Linked DNA regions of Homo sapiens: region 1 is linked to region 2. The links come from fine-mapping of genetic effects on gene expression. A gene starts in region 2. The other region holds a variant in brackets. All regions are shown on one strand. Distances are between the middles of the regions.

Region 1 (4,398 bases), 160 kb after region 2:
TATTTATAGTGAAATGCAGAATCTGATTTAGTAGGCCTGGGGAGGTGTCTAAAATTCTGTATTTCTAACAGACTCCTAAGTGATGCTGTTGCTTCTGCTCCATAAACAACACTTTGAGTAGTGAGGATCTACAGAATATCACACAGGCACTGGAGTTATATGGGAAACTGTTTTTAATGTTAAGGGGAAAAAAAGAATGATGTCATATAAAGTTATAATATATAAAAACAGATTTAATGTAGGTTAGTTCTGGGTAGTTGAAATATCAAAAAATAATTACAATTCTGAGCTTTGACTTTTTCAAGACTTGGTTATCTGTGAGGGTATATAATGCATTTATGAATAAATTTATTTTTGTTACATTAATTTTAAGTGATGCCTAGACAGCTCAACTGGATTTTTATTGGGGCTCTGATTTTTTTCTGGTCATAATATGATTCCGTCATGAATAAATCTAATAAGGCAATTGGAGACATGACTAATTACTTGGCAGAGAGCCCAATTTTAACTCAAAATGGTTGATTTGGTGGTATTTGAAGACAGGCTGCAATTGCTTGGAGAGTTAAGAAAGTTTTAGGTTAGAGGAGAAAACATGGAAAAAGTAATGTCTCACTACACATATACATGTAATAGTGTCACTTATTTTTGTTTATGGTTTTCCAAGCAACAAGTAAATTATACCACACAAGACAGTCTGGAAACTGGTATACAGATGAAAAAGGCTACATTTAGATTAACCTCAGTGCACCTTTCCAACGCAGAGTGAAAAATACCTCTGTAGAAGTGGTTACTTAATCATTTAGGTACAACTGCTTCTTTTGAGCCAACCTTTGACTTTTTATCTAACTTTTTGAACTGACTCATCTAATTTTTGTAAGATTTTGGTTTGGTAATTTTGCATTAATTAGGATAATTTGAATCATTTTTCCTGTGAAATATAAATAATGTTTTAAGCTTGTTAGCATTTTAAACAGGAAAAAATAAGCAATAATTAATTTAAATCTTTTGTGTGATGTGGGAAGACATTTAACTATGACTTTTTTCGGTGAAGATACTATTGTTTTCTAAATTATGGAAAAACAATCATTTTACTTGAAACAATGAAAACGAAAAAAGAAACCTATCTCCTTTGCTTTAGGAAATTTAGATTGCTTTAATTCCGACTACCCAATATATGATTTTGTGTTGTGAAATAAATAATGGGCCTTTCTTTAACTTTGAAAATATTATTTGAATAAACTTTAAGTAAATACAATATACTTGATTTAATCTCTAATTATAACCAAATGTCATCAATTGCTATGGGATTCCAGATGTGATTTTAACAATTATTGAAAAAGGGTGCAAGGTAGTAATTATAAATGATAAAGATGTATGATACATTTTCAAAGAGCCTAAATTCTCGTGAGAAAATATATACATAAATACTCTTAATACATTAAAATAAAATATATTTAATATAAATGAAATATATTTAAGTATAACTTAAGTGTATTTTTTATCAAGTACACTATCTTAAAATAAATGAGCTGCATTCCTGATGTCAATTTCCTAAACAAATACATCAGTTGTAAATCTGTTTTTATCACTTAGCATAACATCATACACACACACACACACACACACACACACACACAGAGTCATTCCTCAGTATCTGAGGTATTGGTAAATCCATGGATACTCAAGTCCCTGGTATAAAATGGTAGTATTTGCATATAACCTATGCACATCTTCCCATATACTTTAAATCATCTCTAAATTACTAGTAATACCTAATACAATGTAATTGCTATTTAAATAGTTTTTTTAACTTTATTAGATGTAGAATAGTGTCAAGAAATAGAAGACTGTACATATTCAGTACAGACACATTTTTTCCCCTGAATATTTTCTATTTACTAATCATTGAGTCTACAGATGTGGAACCCATGGATATAGAAGACCAACTGTGTGTATGTAGATGTGTGTCTGTTTGTGTGTGTGTATAATCATGCAGCAGAGTAGCAGAAAAATATAAAATTTAAAAAACCTTATTAGATGGCAGCTATAAAGAGACTTACTGTCCTTAGCCCTACTACTTGAACAACTCTTTAGCATTTTCTGTATCTTCAAAGTAGAACTGATACAGGTGCCTGGTAGGTGTGACTTTGCGGTACATTTATTTTGTATTTTATTTTGAATATTTAAAAATGCTTACAATGTTTTGTCTTTCATTGCTTTCAGCCTCCCATTGGTAGTATGGAAAATGCACACACACACAGACACACACACACATACACACACACACACACAGAGGAGAGAGAGAAAAGAAAAATATATATGATAGAAAAATTGAGTGTTTTTCCCCCAAAATATCAGGGTGGGGGATTAATTTTTAAGATTCTTTCTCATTGTGTCACTTTTATTTTGTTATGATAATTTCCACTTGATTTCTTTTTCCATTTTCTTTTTTCCCATTGCCAAAAATAGTTTATTAAAG[T/A]TAAAGAGCTGTGGAAATGGACTTCTTGGCAATAGATTGACAAAGAATTTTTAAAAAGATCTTTCTGGCTCAAGATAATATTCAGTGATCATTCCTGATTAGACATTAGTAAAGGTAGTCTACACAAATGTTGACTCTATTTCCATATTTTTTATTGATAACTTTTCGTCATACTGCATTTATATATGGTACATTACAAATTTTTTCTTATTTCGTAGATATTTGAATAAAGGAGCTGTTCTAAACTTCACATAGCTGTGCTCTTTCTTATCACTGTGTGGTTACTGGCATATTGACGACTACTTTGTTGCTGTGTGCAAATGGAAAATCTTGTTTAAACATGAGCAAATGAGCACAAGATAACTTAATAATGACTTTGAGGATAACAGTTACATGAGCTTCACTTATCTTTACTAATGCTTTGCTACAATTAGAATTTGTTCCCCCTCTTTAGATAATCAAATAAAATATATTGCTGGAAAATTTCAGCTAATGTTTGAAGGTTTTAATTGTGAATTCACAAAAATTGAACATTTCACTTGAACTTTTTACTCATGAAACTAAGTGGTAAATGAAAGTGGACTTTGATTATTTCTACTATAAATGTAATGACATTTAAAATTTTTCAAAATTACAAAAGAAAAAACAACTGGGTGCCATACGATGAATATTAAAATATTTTAGAACCTCACCTAAATTCTGCATTTTAATGGAACTAAAATCATCAGTTTTAAATAGTTTATTAGTATCAGAAATTTAGCATAAATGGCAATGCCTACTACTGCATGTCTGTGCAGAAGTTTATAAATTGTTAACTCGAACATTGGTAATGCATATGATATAATTTTGATCTGGTGTAGACCATGTGTTAGTATAAATGTACAGCACTATACTGAGTTAATAGTGACCAAACTTCAGAGAAATATTAATCATGTAGCCACAAAGATAATAAAAAGATAAAGAAGATTGAATAAAAATATTTAGTTGCGAGTGAATTTGACCAGGGAAGGGGAAAAAAAAATGAGCGCTTTGAATGATGGCCTTCAAATTTTAGGTGAAAATAACTCTCTCAAGGCTGATTTCCCAGAAGATGGTACCCCAGTATCTTTGCTGGAGACAAAAGGCCAATGGAAGACTATATCATACATAAGAAAGTATTTCTCACTGTTAATAATTGCTAAACATCTCAGTGTTTCCTGATAGTGTGAGTACCTCCATCTCTAAAACAGGATAGTCAGTTATTTTAATGCTCAATGCAGGGCTCTTTACCTTATCAACTTGGACAAAGAACATTGGTTCTATTGAGACTTTTGAAGTTCTATATGCAGATGGCATATAGAACAGTATTCTGTTCAAAGCAGCTCTTCTGTCTTCCTCAGAGAGAGAGAGAGGTGCATAATGACATTTCAGCCAACAATACTGCATTAATGACGGTAGTCCCATAATATTATAATGGAGCCAAACAATTTCTATTGCCTAGTGTCATTGTAACCATTATAATGTTGTGGCAACACCATGCGTGCTATTACCCGTGAAGACCTTCCAATGGGACAAGATGTGGTGGTAGAAAACAGTGATATTGATGATCCTGATCCTGTGTAGGCCTAGGCTAATGTGTGTTTGTGTGTCAGTTTTTAACAAAAAAAAATTAAAAGATAAAAATAGGAAAAAGCTTATAGAAGAAGGATATAAAGAAAGAAAATATTTTTGTACAGCTGTACAATGTGCTTGTGTTTTAAAGTAGGTAGTATTACAAGAGAGACAAATAGTTTTAAAAAATTAAAAAACTTATGAAGTAAGAAACAAAGGATTTTTAAAACTTAACCTTAAGGTAAGCTAAGGTTATATTATTGAAGAAAGGAAAATATTTCTTATAAATTTAGTGTAGTCTAAGTGTAAAGCATTTACAAAGTCTGCAG
Region 2 (4,398 bases):
CAAAGATAATCCCAAAGAGCAGTGTGCACAGTTTTGCTGCAATCAGTACCATTCTGGTCAAGTCTCCGTCATCTGCTCTAGGCTTAGTTCCTCTCTGCCCTAGGCTGCTTCTGGTAAAACCGCACGCTCAGCTTGTTGGGCGTCTTCATGGAGCCTGTTATTTGCTGTGGGTCTAAGAAAGGGAAAGCTTCAGGCTTCAGGCATCTGTACCTCCTATCTGTTCTCAGCTCCATGGAAATTCTTAAGGGATGGGGCTATAGATAAGAGAGTGGGAAATGGAGATCAAGGTCTCAAATGAAAGGCAGGGTGGTTTGATTTTTAAGCTCCCCTGATACTTTTTATTTATATATTTGCTGCTTCTAGAAAAACCAAAAAAGGAAAGTGATTCATACATAGAATGCCTGTACAAATAGCAAACCAATAACTACCCCCAGCAGATTCTGGCCCTTGCCAGGGTGCGGTTTCAGAGCTGTAAAAGGCAAGGGATATGTACATTGAAATGACCCAGTCCCAGAATATTTTAGATTCAGAAAAGGTCAGAGACTTTCGTAACTAGCAATGACCTCCAGATTAGGGACCATGAATGTGCAGAGTGAGGACAAGGAAGGGGCCTAAAGCTGGGTCTACTGTAGAATAAACAGAATCATTTAAGGTTAATTATGTTCTGATGTGGCCTCCTTAAATTCTTTCAGGCTGGGGACAATTTCTAGCCCTTTAAGATCAAATCAGTGGCTTTGGACTAGAATCTGCTTAATAAGAATGAACTCCAAAGGTGAAAAAAAAACATAAAATCTAAAAATCAAAGGATATGCCTTTATAAATGTGAAAGTTTAGTTTGGCTCAATGTTGGTCAGTTTAGAAATGTGGGAGTAATCGGAGAGATGGCATAACTGGGGGCGGGAGGCGGGGCGGTGATTATACCCCTACCACTACCTAATCCTCAGGGGCTACCAGTTACTTGCTGTACACACTTTTAAAGTACTTTCTAATTGTGGACCATGAGTGGCAGAGTACTGCGGGCGGAGGCTTTTTGCTGAAAGCAACATTGACTTTTATTTCTAGGGAAAGTCTTGTCTGTAGATGAGCACCGTGGGGCAACGGAGAAAATGCTGACTTTCTTGTTTAAAAAAAAAAAAAATTTCCGTAAGCGGCCCTCCAATGGTCCGTCCACTCAGCAGGCCAGCTGTCCCAGGCCTCTGCCAGGGAGGGAAGACGAGTGCTTCAGTGCATGGCTTCGGTGAGCCCTTTAAATCCAGCTTCCCCTGCCCCCACCAAGAGGCTCCCTTTCCCTGACAGGTGTTTTCCCAACTCCGGAGGCCCAGGATTTTGGGGAGTGGCTGAGCCAATAAGATTTCCCTTTGGAAGGGGGGGGGAAGGGCGTGGCTAGTTGGGTCAGAGCATGGGCGGGGTTTGCGCGGCTGAGCAGAGCCGGCCTGGTTGCGTGGAGGGTTGTTTTATTCCCACCGCCCCCCGCACCTTTTTTTTTTTTTTTTCTGGAGTCTTATTAATTTCTCTGTGGGCTGCAGCTGGAGACCGCGGAGCGCTGGAAATGACGCTCGGAGCTTTAATTACCGCAGCCGCCGGACAAGTGTGAGGAAAGCTGAGAGGAAAAAGAAGGACGGGATCCGGGGAGAAGCGAGAAGCTCCCCCCGCCCCGCTCCCCTCCCGATTTGGACTGGAGGTGCAAGGAAACTGAAGAAGGAGCAGAACATAGCCCGGCTGCGGGGAGAGGCCGGAAACCTACCGCCTCTTTGCAATCAACTTTTTTTGGAAACCTTTCGCCCCCCTTCCTTTTTTATTGTTGACCAACCAGTGAGAGAGAGAGAAAGTGAGGAGGGAGCGAGCAAGCGAAGGCTCACGCGGGGAAATAGCTGCACAGTCCGGCCCAGAGCGCCAAGCGCACACACCGAGCACACTCCCACACGCGCACACACGCGCTCACACTCGCCCCCTCCTCGGGCCCCGGCCCTGGACCCGCGGGCGCGGACTCGGTCGCCCGCCCTGGGAGTCGCCACACCGCGCGCGCCGCGCCCGCCCCCCTCGCACCCCCACGCGCGCCCGGCTGGGGGATCTCCTCCGCGTGCCCGAAAGGGGGATATGCCATTTGGACATGTAATTGTCAGCACGGGATCTGAGACTTCCAAAAAATGAAGCCGGCGACAGGACTTTGGGTCTGGGTGAGCCTTCTCGTGGCGGCGGGGACCGTCCAGCCCAGCGATTCTCAGTCAGGTGGGTTCCTTCTGGCACTCCGGTCGCCGAACCTGCAGCCGCCGGCGGGGCTGCCTCGAGTGGCTCCCCTGCCCTCTTCACCCATCCCGGGAGGCGTGGAGGGACCGCTTGACCGGGGCCTCTTCCCTGGGCTTTCGGTCACCCCTCTTTCCATTTGAAACTTACCCTGTATGTGTGCGTTTGCTTTATTTATCGTGAAAAATCACTCTGAGTCCCTCTTTTCTCTCCTTAACCCCCTGCTTTTCTTTCCCGAGCGTTTTGTTTGGGAGCCTAAGCGGGATCCCTTCTGGTGGCGCCTGTTGTTCGGGACATGGGAGACCCAAATCCCCAGTCAGAGGAGACTCTTCTGTCCCTGTCGGGTCCCCGAGGGCAGAACCCGCACCGCCGGGGCCGCGGTCCTGGGGCGGTGCTGGCTGGGCCTCTCCCGAGCCGAGCCCGAAGGGCGGTGGAGAGCGGCGCTCAGAAAATCGGGCTTTGCACCTGTGTGTGCTGCTGGCGACCGCTGCGCCCCCAGTCGCCCGAGCCTTGTGGCGTCAGACGCAACTCGCGCCCAGCCCGGGCAGCCGGAGTGCAGCAGGCGGGCGCGCCTCGGTCCGGGGCCCGGAGTTCTGGGCCTCTTCCGCCGGCTTCCCGGAGCCCTCTCCCCATTGACTTGAGGGGCGCTTACTCGCCTGCCTGACCTCTTAAAAAAAAAAAAAAAGGCTTGGCACACTTGAGCCAGAAGCCCGGCCTTCCCGTCGGTTGCCGTGTTTGGCTCCGGGAAGAGTTCTTCCTGTAGTTCAACTTGCTATTGGCCGGAGTCCTTCAAACTTGTCTGTTTACTGCCCGGCCAGGCTGCCGAGCCTGCGGGTCACTGGATCCACCCGAGGCGAAAGCGGCAGCGGCGATGGGTGCGCGGCCACTGCTTGCTGGAGAGCTCGAGCCCCAGGTACCTGGGCAGGCAAAGGGCTAATTGACCCCGAGAGGCAGCGCGGCGGGGCTGGCCCGCCACGGCTTGCAGGACTAATGACAGCACCTGCAGTGCAATGGAGCTCAAAGTTTCTGACACTAGAGTTTCCTGGGGATGAAAGTGGGACGGGAGAGGTCTGAGGAGGACCGGTGTCTTGACGTGGCCAAGGGGTGCCTTTTGGAGAGCCAGAGAGATTTCCGAAACCATCCAGGGATGGTGACTGGAGCGTGGGAAGTAGCTTGAGGTGATAAAGCCCCCGGGAGTGGCGATAGGGAGCGCTTTAGGCCCCCGGAGGGTGTCCTTCTGACCTCACCAAGAAAACGGCTAGCTGTAGTTTTCCCGCTCCGCCGCCGCCGCCGCCGCCGCCTCCTTTGCCTAGTAAATAACAAGTTACAATTATCGAGTCTTTCAAAATGACCTTCGAATGGCACATGTGAGGCGTTTGTGCTGGCCGTTTGCACCCTCCCAATTACTCCGAAATTCTTCACGCATACCAGGTCCCGCGCTCCAGCCACCTCCGGAATCACACCAACACGGACTTGACATTCCAAGCGGCCTCTTAGATACATCTCTTTTTATCTCCCTCCCCACTTCGAGTCCCTTCATATTTTCCCTCAATGGGTTGATTATGCACATTGACCCATTCAAAGGCATTGGCGACCGACATGCAGGCTTAGCCGAGAGGAATTTCTACGAGGCGACCTACTGGGGGCTGTCTGGTTCAGCCTCTGCCACTGGGGGACCCCGCTCCGAGTCCGCAGCAATTTGGTATTAACTGTGCGGCTCCGAGTTGAGCTATGCCGAAAAGCCCTTTTCAGAATTTCTGCAAGGAATGTAATCCAAATTAGTTCTGCAGCTGTCCTCTTCCTCGTCTCAGGCGACACTAGCTCGCGCCCTCGCTTCGTCTCTTCTCGTTTCCCTGGGCGAATTGTCAGACCCACAAGTGAGCCCATTTAGAGCGCGAGGATTAGCGTGCCATTGTTGTTCCGTGTGTGACTCTGTACTTGAAATTCTGGGGGCACAAAGGCGAGCCTCACTTGTTCAAAACACAAAGTGATCCAGATGAAAGGGCCGCACAAAGAAAAGCTCTCGGGTGCATCCCTGGTATAATTGCAACACGCATACTAAGGTGATCCATTGGAAACTGTAAATGCCCCGGGGGACTTCGTTTTTCATCCTCCCCCACCCCCACCCTGCCGCACCTGGCAGGGAAAGTTCAG

Alleles and levels. Positions count from the first base shown, and alleles are read on the strand shown. Sizes are in standard deviations (SD) of each study's normalised expression.
For the expression in stomach of the gene that starts at base 1,876 in region 2, allele T in region 1 goes with a lower level than allele A (small effect, 0.17 SD a copy in GTEx).

Evidence for each region.
Region 1: its variant is fine-mapped to the expression of ERBB4 in stomach (GTEx, PIP 0.93).

The regions. Positions count from the first base shown.
Region 1 is chr2:212,377,696-212,382,093 of GRCh38, reverse strand. All of the region lies in intron 1 of ERBB4 (erb-b2 receptor tyrosine kinase 4), which reads left to right. Among named protein-coding and RNA genes, the nearest start is that of MIR548F2, 46 kb to the left of the region's middle. The variant T/A (reference allele first, on the strand shown) is at 2,480.
Region 2 is chr2:212,536,280-212,540,677 of GRCh38, reverse strand. ERBB4 (erb-b2 receptor tyrosine kinase 4) reads left to right here and starts at 1,876. Exons shown (of 28, transcript NM_005235.3): 1 at 1,876-2,229. The coding sequence starts at 2,148. RefSeq lists an enhancer at 2,845-3,345.